2 linked regions of the Homo sapiens genome follow. The protein of the gene in region 1 interacts with the protein of each later gene in a pairwise test. Each region holds a gene or a part of one and is shown in the gene's direction. Other genes may lie near its edges.

Region 1 (7,305 bases):
ATCAAGCTAAATGGCATGTTATTCAACTTTCCAACTTTGTCTCACCAAACTGTACAGATTCATCTTAATATGTTTTGGATTTTGTTTTTATTTTTCTTTGCCTTAAAGGTTTTCCCTGTGTTTCACACAGCTGCATGTTTCTATATTTTCTGATTATTTCTTGGTCACAGTGCCTTAAAACTATAGCGTTTTAAGTATAACTTAAACGCTATATGCTGCCGCTTTATGTATTGCCATTAAAGAGAGACTAAAAATACAAAGCATGGCATGAAGTCCATTTTCAGGGCTTCTATTCTGCAGAGATGATTATACCTATCCTGGTCATGCTATGGTTTCTATGACCTTTCTAATTTGAGGTGGTAGCATGGAAACTAAAGATTTAATTTTGTTTTTAGTTTACTTTTAGAAATCTACTTCCTGCATGCAGTTCTTCAGTATTGGTTCATTCTTTCTTAGTCAAGTTTCTGCTCATGTTGCTTTATTGCAAATGTGTTTTTCAAGGGAACTGATGTTCCTCAGACCATCTTCTTAACTGTATAACACCCCATCCTCCAGGAAACTTTTCTTTTGACTTTACCAAAGGGGTGCCTTATGTATTCCTGATTTTGTGCTTCATTTTCTGTCAGTTACTCTTTGATTGCCTTCCTTGGATTTTCGTTGGCCCGTATAGTAGGTGAACCCCAGTGTTTCAGCCCTTCCTCTTCTCTTCTCATTGTAGGCAGCCTTGATGACTCACTTTTGGCCCTTCACTCTCTTGAACTATAGCTGTGTGTGTCCAGCTCACTGCTAAACACCTACTTAAATGCCCCTTATCTTTTGAACTCAAAATATCTAAATTTCAGCCCATCATTTTTACACCTAGACCAGCCATACCACCCCCTCTTCCAAATTTCCGTCACAGGGGTCCTCATGCAGAATGAGAGTCACTTAACTTTCAGTCATCTTCCTTTTTTGACCAGCACTGTCATTCAAAGTTCTTCCTTCATAATGGTGTCATGACTCCTCCTTTTCTTGTACCCACATCATCTTAGTTTAGGCCTTTTCTATAACATGCCTGAAATAGTGCATTGCTACTGGATCTTTCTATCATTCCAGGTTTCTTCTCCCTCCGCTTGCCTTTGCAGAGTGCTGCCTGACAACCTATCCAGAATATTACTTTGCACACATTAACCTTTTCCTCAATTTCAGGGTACAGGTGTGATGGTGACAAACTAACAGAGACCCTCCATAACTTCATAGTGCCTTCAAGATAATATCCACACCCTTTGCATGCCACACAAACTTCTCTACAACCTGGACGGACTTTATCCACCCTATCTTTCCAGTGTCCCCAATTTACCTATATCAGGATGCCTCTACTAGAGACAGACCAGAATACTTATCTCCCCCTTCATAACTTACCCATTTTTCCACATTTATATATTTTTCATACAATTTATCTGTCTAGAATATAGCTCTATACTCATTTTTACTGTTCTTAGCCATTTTGCAAAGCCCAGCTTCCAGTTAGCCTTTTCCAAAAGTCTTGTAAGACCACCTAGCCCTAAATAATCACTCTTGCCTATAAGGGCCTATAGCTGGGGTGACTGTGTAATTTATCATCCAAACCAGGACATTTTTGAAAGTGAAAGGGTGTGTCATCATTAATAAACAGGACATTGGGAATATACCTGTGCTACCCTGGGTAAACTGGGACAGATATTATTCCATCCATAGCTCATATGTTTGGCCTGCACGTCCCTTCAGCATTTAGCATTTAGTACTCTGCATTGGTGTTAATGCCCTTCTGGATGTGCTGGGACTCCTCAATAAGTCTGTCCTCCAGACTGTTACATTATGCTCATACTTCCACATATCCCCAGAACCTAACATTTTGCCATATATTTTAGTAGATACTAAATTATGTTTGTTAATTAGGATGCTGATGGAACCCATTATTTAGCAGTTTTTCCCTTACATTTTTAGGAGGTGGTTTTGCCAGATAAATATAATGTTTAATTTTTTTTCTAATTTAGCTTATTGACATGTGTGTGCAGAACTGTGGTCCAAGTTTCCAGTCTCTGATTGTGAAGAAGGAATTTGTTAAAGAGAATTTAGTTAAGCTACTGAATCCCAGATACAACTTGCCATTAGACATTCAGAATAGAATCTTGAATTTCATTAAGGTAAGTCTGTTGTATACCTCATGGGATGGTAAATTTCTAAGATTAGGGATTTAATAGCTTACCTCCTGATTGTTTCACTTATCTTTTATATATCTAGGATTGAGCTAGAAAAGCATTTTTGCTATTTTAGTTTCTGTGTAATAATAATTTTTTGGCATTGGATGGTGCCCTTTTTCTGAAGAATTTGTAGTCATTTCCCTGCTTTCCTCTCAGTTTCTATTTTATCTGTGTCAAATAGGAAAGACAGTGATCTGTGTGTTCACTTTGCAGGTAGGGAAACTTCCAGCTAACTGACTAGTTCAAGGTTACTTGGAAAAAGAGCTACTGATGTTATTTTAGAATCTATTAATTTTGGATTCAGAGCAGCAAAAAACAATTGATAGTATATATCCTAGGGTTTCTTCAAGATTTTGAGGCATGGAAATCTGATTTAAAAGATTTTATATTTTCCTAGCCTTTGAAAATGAGCATTTTGCCCATGGCATTCAAAAGTAGCTTTCTCTTTCTGAGTGGGGTACATAATTATTGATCTCTTATTTTCTATCAGGAGCTTAAGAATTGTGTTTTCGGCTGGGTGCGGTGGCTCACGCCTGTAATCCCAGCACTTTGGGAGGCCGAGGTGGGCAGATCACAAGGTCAGGAGTTCGAGAGCAGCCTGGCCAACATAGTGAAACCCCGTCTCTACTAAAAAATACAAAAAGTAAGCCAGGCGTGGTGGCGGGCGCCTGTAATCCCAGCTACTCAGGAGGCTGAGGCAGGAGAATCGCTTGAACCCAGGAGGCGGAGATTGCAATGAGCAGAGATTGTGCCATTGCACTCCAGCCCGGGCAATAGTGTGAGACTCTGTCTCAAAAAAAAAAAAAAAAAAAAGAATTGTGTTTTGGTTTTGTTGCTGTTTTAACTCTGGAACTTTTTTCATCTCTTGAATTCAGACTTGGTCACAGGGCTTCCCAGGAGGTGTGGATGTAAGCGAAGTCAAAGAAGTATACCTCGACCTGGTTAAGAAAGGCGTTCAGTTTCCTCCCTCAGAAGCAGAGGCTGAAACAGCAAGACAAGAGGTAGGAGGCCTTTCTTTGACCCATGGAGACTATAGTAGTGTATCACTTGGGTCTTTTCTCATTACAGGAGACAACCCTAAATCCACCCAGCTTAAGCAAAAAGATGAAGTTATTAGAAGGATATTGCAATATCTCATAGAATAACCGAGACTTGGGATTTTGCTACTTAAAGTGTGTTTTGCTACTAAAAGTATGAAAGTTTGTTTGGCATGTTCCACCCTAGACTAATCAGAACCTCCCTTTTTACAAGATTTCCAGGTGTTTTCTCTGCACATTAATGTTGAGAAGCACTGGCCTAGAGCCTTGAGCTTTCACCTCTCCACCCAAGGTTGGAGATGTGGCATTGACCCAAGGAGGGTCATTGATGGAGAAGGAGATGCCTTGTCAGCTGTGGCTTAAAAGGACTTGACATGAATTGAGCTACCATTTGTTATTAACAACCCAAAGAGAAGGCATCAATAATCTCACATGGCAGTTTATCACTTAGACCCTTGGTTAAAAAAAAAAAAAAAAGGGCATTTTATTAAATTGTAAATGATAATCCTAATAGCCACCTTTTGTTGAATACCTGCTTTATTATGGGCATGTCATTTGCTTAGCATTCTTCACAAAATGCTGGACGGGTTGTGTAGCTGATGATTTACTCTGGGCAGATACCCTGTACACAGGACTTTGAGAGTGCTTGAGTTAGCTGAATGGAAAAAACTTGGCGTTGGGTGGCTATGTTAATTCACATAATAATATTACCATGTTTCATACTCATAGACTGCTCAAATCTCATCAAATCCTCCAACATCTGTCCCTACTGCACCAGCTCTTTCTTCTGTAATTGCTCCAAAGAACTCGACTGTTACATTGGTCCCAGAACAGGTAACAACAACAATCATTGCATTTAATTGATGTCTTTTCCTGATTTGTAAGCACCTTATATACAGTTTGTCTTTTCTGGTTAACAACATTGAGATGTAGGTACACTCATTTCACAGAGGAAGAGACTGAGGCTTAGTAATACTATGTGACTTACCATAGTTCAGTTCCAAGAAGGAGTAATCCCATGGGTTCTGTCTGCTTCCAAAGCCCAACTTTGTAAGAGTTGTGCTTGCCTAGCGGCTTTCATGGCTTTCTGGAGCCTTGACTGTGGACTGGATCTAGGGTCCATCAGCTAATTCCTGTTACTTCTGGTAGGACTGTCACATATTTCAGAGAGTTTAGTAAATGGTAGTCTTATTACTTGTATTTATTATGCCAACTGAATTGTATTTACTTCTTTGTGTATATCAGTTTATCCAAGGTACCGATAAACAATTATTATATGAGGCTAATTTCCGTTCTGCTGTAAAGGAACTATAATTGAAGATTTTGTTGTATTATTTTTTTCTTATATAAAAATGCATGTGACTAATTCCTCTTAGAATTTAATACAGGAAGAAAAGGTGTTTCTTTATTCCTTCTTCTTTAATACCATGAGAACTGGATAACCCTCATTTGTTTTTCTTTTACCCTATTGGTTGCCAAGAAACTCAGGATAACTTTTGCCATTTTATCCAGGTTTCTGGTACCTTCTTCTGCTAGGTACCTGGTACTTCTCCCCTCTCCATATTGGGTTCTAATCTTTTTTTTTCCTTTCATTTTTAAAATTCCTAAAGCATATTTTGGGGTTTATTACAAGAGATCTCAAGTCCTTTTAGAAGGTGACAAGGTATACATTTGTAAAATAACTATATGTATATTTATATGAAATTAAATTTAAGTTTGAAAATATTAAATTTTGCAAAAGCATTTTTTCATCCAGCAAATGTCCCATGGGGGCAGGAAACAAGGTAGTTATTCTTTGTGTGTCGCACTGACTGGTGATTGTGTTGCTCTCTACAGATTGGAAAACTGCACAGTGAATTGGATATGGTGAAAATGAATGTGCGAGTGATGTCCGCCATATTGATGGAGAATACTCCTGGGTCTGAAAACCATGAAGACATAGAGCTTCTGCAGGTGTTGTACGATTTCAGGGACTATCAGTCAAAGTGTCTCTTAAAGTTATTCTCTAAACTTTGAGTTTGGAGATGGAAGACACCTTAATATTGTCTAGTACATCCTCCTACATCCTGATTTCAGTTGATTTCTAAACTTAACAAAAATATCCAAGAATGACTTTGTCAGAAATGCAGTAGTAACTTAGACATGGTTTTTAGCCTCTTGCAACAAATAATTTATTATAAGTTATAACCTTGGTCATGTACAATCAATTCTCTAGTTGTTTTAAGTATGTAAAAATTGCCTCTATTTTCATCCACTCAACAAACATTGAGTAACTGTGATATAGGAAGGGATGTAGAAATGAGAAGGAGGCTATTCTAGTCCTTAAGAGTTTATGCCTAATGAGCAAGATTGGTTTGTAAACAACAAACATAATGAAGTATTATAGATACTGTAGTATAAATTTGTTCAGTATATGGTGGGATCATGGGTGGGGAGAAGGAGAGATGTGAGGTTTTTAAGAATGGTCTAGATGGAGGCAATGCTCGAGCTATAGAGGAACAAGTAGACAGGGCATTTAGACCTGCATGAGTAGTTCTACAGCCCTCCTATGCCTTCTGCTATGTCTGTGTATACATATACTTTATTTTTCCCTCTACCAGTTTGCTCTTCTAATTATTTTAAATTTTAAAACTTATTAATTTTAGAAGCAGTTAGAAAAAAAAATCAGTTTCTAGTTTCTAAGTCCCTTTGTTGCCAAGTTAAGAAGCTTAAGATATTTTTACTTTTCTCAGATTCCCACTCGCCACCTCTCATGTTATTTTTCCTTTAACTTCTTAGATTGTTAGTAAATAACTTTTTCCTTGCTCATTTCTTATTTGGGAAACAAAAAAATTGTAAAAATTTTCCCAACAATGTTTCTTAGATATCACTGCTGTCGTGAATAGTTTGTTTTTTCCTTGCTGCAGTACACCCATGTTGGTAAACTTTGGTGCAAACTTTGAGTGCTTGCATATCCAAAAATGTCCTCTGATTGTCATGTTAAATGCAGGTTAGTTTAGCTAGATATAAAATTCTAGGCACAAAATTCTAGGCCTTTGAAGATACTGCTTCACTGTTCTCTTACACCCACTAATGCTGATAGAAGTATTATATTATTCTGCTTCTTAATCCTTTGATTAATAATATTTTTTTCTAGTTGCATTTGTTATTTTTCTACGTTAATATTTCAGAAATTGTACTGTTCCCTCTGAAGAGATATATGTACATGTGTGCAGATGTTTGTTTAACTTACTTATCTTCCTTAGTAGATGATAGGCTTTTTTGCCTTATCAACTTATGTGTATTTTTAATTCTAGGAATTCTCAGCTCCTACTTTAAATATTGACTTTCTACCATTCTTTCTATTCTCTTCTTATGGAACTTTAAGACGATGAAACTTCCAGTTGGATTCATTTGTCTCTTAACATTTCTTTTATACTTTTCATTTCTTCATTCTAAGTTCTGGGATAATTTCTCTGTTTAATGTATTTCTCTAAAACTTGTAATTGAGTTGCTTATTCAGTCCTTCTAATAAATGTTTCAACAATTTCTTTCTATTAAAAATATGTACTTTAAACATATTTACTATATACAAATATGTACATAATTTTAAAATATTTTTAAAATATGTTGGATTTTTATAACAGTTCTTTCATTTCATGGTTCTGCTTTTCTTTATCTTTCCAAGGATAATAATTATATTTAACGCTGCTTTTTTGTTTGTTCTGTGGACTCTCCTTTGCAAATTTTTTGTTCATTTTTTAATTTGCATTCTCCAGTGTTCAGCTGGATTGCTGATAGTGAGCTCATTTTTGTGTGAGACTCTCTGCCAGCTGGTCTGCATTCTCTGCTGACCCAGCTCACCCATGCTGAAGGGAGGATGTAATTGCTACTGCTGTGCTTGATAATATTTTCAGAGTATGGTATAGCAACATGGGATGATGCTGTTTGGGATCCATTTATGGATGGTCTTCTGGATTATGTATTCTCTATTTTTTTCCTGAATGCTACTAGTGCCTAGAAATAATACCCTATCCCTCTGTCCCAATCATTGTTTCCACCTGGAA
Region 2 (3,061 bases), on another chromosome or scaffold:
CAGGGGTGTCATGCCTGGAGTTACTAGCAAGACAGAGACATACGGGCAGTTGCCTGACGCCCAGCTTAGTGTTCCACCTGCCTGCCGTCTGAGGAAGCCTCTCCGCCCCTCCAGCTGAGTGTGTCTATTTTGGGCATGCTCAGTACAGAAGTAATTCTGGGGGGATTCATTTGGGTAAGCTTCTCGGGCTTCTAATCCATCTGGGCTATGGGGGCCAAACTGAAAAGGCCCTTCCAGAAAACCTGCTCTCATCTCCCCATTGTACAGATGAAGACATGGAGACAAGTAGAGGCAGGAACTTGGCCAAGGTCACACGGCCAACTAGTCCTTGTCACCTTTTGGCGTCCCCTGCCCAGGGCCCCAACATCATCCCAGCAGACATCATTTTCATCGTAAAGGAGAAGCTACACCCTCGCTTCCGCAGGGAGAATGACAACCTCTTCTTCGTGAACCCCATCCCTCTTGGCAAGGTGAGTGGGCAAAGTGCAGGAGCAGCGGGGAGGAGATCAGAGTGAGCCCTGCCTGCCCCGGCCTAGACTTGGCCTCCCCTCCCACAACCACCTGCCATCAGTCACTAAGCCCTGTGGATTCCACCCTCTAAATCACCATCCACTTGGTCCCGTCTGCTCATCTGCACCGCCTGGATCTGTACACCAGATCTGCGCAGCAGGCCTTCCTCCCCACTTCTCATCTCCTCCAGGCTCTTCTCCTTAGGGATCCTGCCACACACTCATCAGACCCTGCCACACTCCTGTCTAAACATCTTTGTGCCACTGGAGGCCCTCTGCGATCTGCTCCCTGCTTACTCCTTCCCCTGCACTCCCGCCCCTTCGCCGCATAGCACCCTGCCTGTGTGGCGCATTGTCACACCTCCGTTCTCATTTCTGCTGGGCCCTCTCCCTGGAATGCTGTCTATTCACCTGACCCTATAGGGTCCTCATCAATAGCTACCACCACTGCTACCACTTCCTGCCCCACTCCTGAATGGTTTAGGGGCCTCTCCTTGGCTCCCACAAACGCTTTTATTCTGTCTCCATCATTACATTTATACAACATCCATCTTACCTGCCAGATCCATCCATCTTTCCTGCCAGTGCAGAAAATTGCATGGGTCATTCACCTATTAGTTATTGAACAGCCTCGTCTCCCTTGTGCCCAACTCACAGTCTGGCACTGGACAGGTTCCTAAGGTGCCTTCTAAATAGGAGAGCCATGGTGACCCTCCTCAGCCCCACCTTTGGCCCTGACCCTCCCTAGGCTCTCACCTGCTGCACTGTGGAGGTGAGGACCCTAGATGACCGTCTGCTCAACATCCCCATCAATGACATCATCCAGTGAGTCCATCTGCCTTGGGCCCCAGTAGCCAAGAGAAGGGCTAGCCTGGGATTTAGGTGGTAGTGTGACAGGTCTGCCCAGTAGAGTTGTACAGGCTGCCCCCAGCAGAAGGGTTCCCTGCTGAGGGGATAGAGAGGACCAAAACTGAACCCACACTGGCCAAGCTGTGGGCTGCAATCACCTGGCAAAAGGAACATCTTTTTCTAATCCACACAAAGCCACTGCAGAGGCTAGAGGCCCCCATTGTTGGGCAACCCTGTAGCCTCCATGCCCTGCAAACTTCTCATTAGAGTTCTGAGTTGCATATCCTAAGTCCTTTTCCAAGAAAGGCCCTCTGCCCGTGAGGAGGTTTGCCTGGCAGCCCAGCACCCTCGCCCTCACCCCAGGGTTTGCTCACCTTTACTTCCCGTTTCCCATGTCTTAAACAAAGTTTCTGGAATCCTCCATCAGAGACTCAGTGTAAACAGGTTTTCAGGGAGCTCCTTTCCCAACCAGTTCTGGCTAAGAACCACTCCAGGTGAAGACTGCAGTGACTGTCCCCTTCCTGGGGTTATGTGAGTAGGGGTTATATGACAGGGACCTGCTGAGGTGCTGCTCTGGGATGCCCTCTATGCTCCTTTCTTTCATCCTATTTCAGCCCCAAATACTTCAAGAAGGTGCCAGGGGAGGGGATGCCATTGCCGGAGGACCCCACTAAGAAAGGGGATCTCTTCATCTTCTTCGACATCCAGTTCCCCACCCGCCTCACACCCCAGAAGAAGCAGATGCTGCGCCAGGCATTGCTGACATGACTGTGGTGGGCTGGAGCAGGGGTGAGAGGAGGCTAGCCGGGCCTCACCCCACCCCTACCCGCCACAGCCTCAGGGTGTGCAGGGGAGCCTGCTGCACAGATATGATACAAGGGTGGGATGGCGCAGGGCTTAAACTGACATAATAAAGATCTATTTCCTGTCCTCCAGCTACACCCACGAGAGTACATTGGAGAGGAGCTTCATATTAGCCCTTCTTGTGGGGCACAGGGAAGAAAGAGGCCTAAGGAGCTGAGTGCCTGAGTCCCTGTCCTGGCTTTGTGGGAAAGGGCAGGTAAGGGTTCAGATCCTCTGTGCTTCCACTTTGATAGAGTGGGGCAGGGCTGTGTGGCCTCTGAGGGTCTCTAGCTCTGCTCTGGCTTTTCATGACAGAAGAGACAATCTCTGGAGCATGATATGGTCACGTTAGAGACAGGAAAACTAAAGCACAAAAGAAAACATTCATTGCAGGTCACTCAGGCCTCAGTGGCAAAGCTGTCATCAGAACCTTGAAGGTGGCTGGGTGCGGTGGCTCATGCCTGGACTTTGGGAGGCCAAGGTGGGCGGATCACTTGAGGTCAGGAGTTCGAGACCAGCATGGCCAACATAGTGAAACCTCGTCTCTACTAAATACAAAAATTAGCCAGGTGTGATGGTGGGCACCTGTAATCCCAGCTACTCCAAAGGTTGAGGCAGGAGAATTGCTTGAACCTGGGAGGCAGAGTTACAGTGAGCTGAGATTGCACCACTGCACTCCAGCCTGGGCGAAAGTGAAATTCCATCTCAAAAAAACTAGAAAGGCCGGGTGTGGTGGCTTATGCTTGTAATCCCAGCACTTTGGGAGGCCGAGGCAGGTGGATCACCTGAGGTCAGGAGTTCAAGACTAGCCTGGCCAACATGGTGAAAACCCGTTTCTACTAAAAATACAAAAATTAGCT

The links.
Region 2: the proteins of TOM1L1 (region 1) and DNAJB13 interact in binary tests that used the Homo sapiens proteins (3 or more experiments, as listed by UniProt).

What each region holds. Positions count from the first base shown.
Region 1 is NC_000017.11:54,910,651-54,917,955, forward strand, and holds part of TOM1L1 (TOM1-like protein 1), read left to right. Parts: intron 1-2,015; coding exon 2,016-2,165; intron 2,166-3,097; coding exon 3,098-3,223; intron 3,224-3,988; coding exon 3,989-4,093; intron 4,094-5,095; coding exon 5,096-5,212; intron 5,213-7,305. UniProt on the Homo sapiens protein: Probable adapter protein involved in signaling pathways. Interacts with the SH2 and SH3 domains of various signaling proteins when it is phosphorylated. May promote FYN activation, possibly by disrupting intramolecular SH3-dependent interactions.
Region 2 is NC_000011.10:73,967,989-73,971,049, forward strand, and holds the end of DNAJB13 (dnaJ homolog subfamily B member 13), read left to right. Parts: exon of another isoform or gene 1-356; coding exon 357-470; intron 471-1,257; coding exon 1,258-1,334; intron 1,335-1,972; coding exon 1,973-2,126; 3' UTR 2,127-2,293; downstream 2,294-3,061. UniProt on the Homo sapiens protein: Functions as part of axonemal radial spoke complexes that play an important part in the motility of sperm and cilia.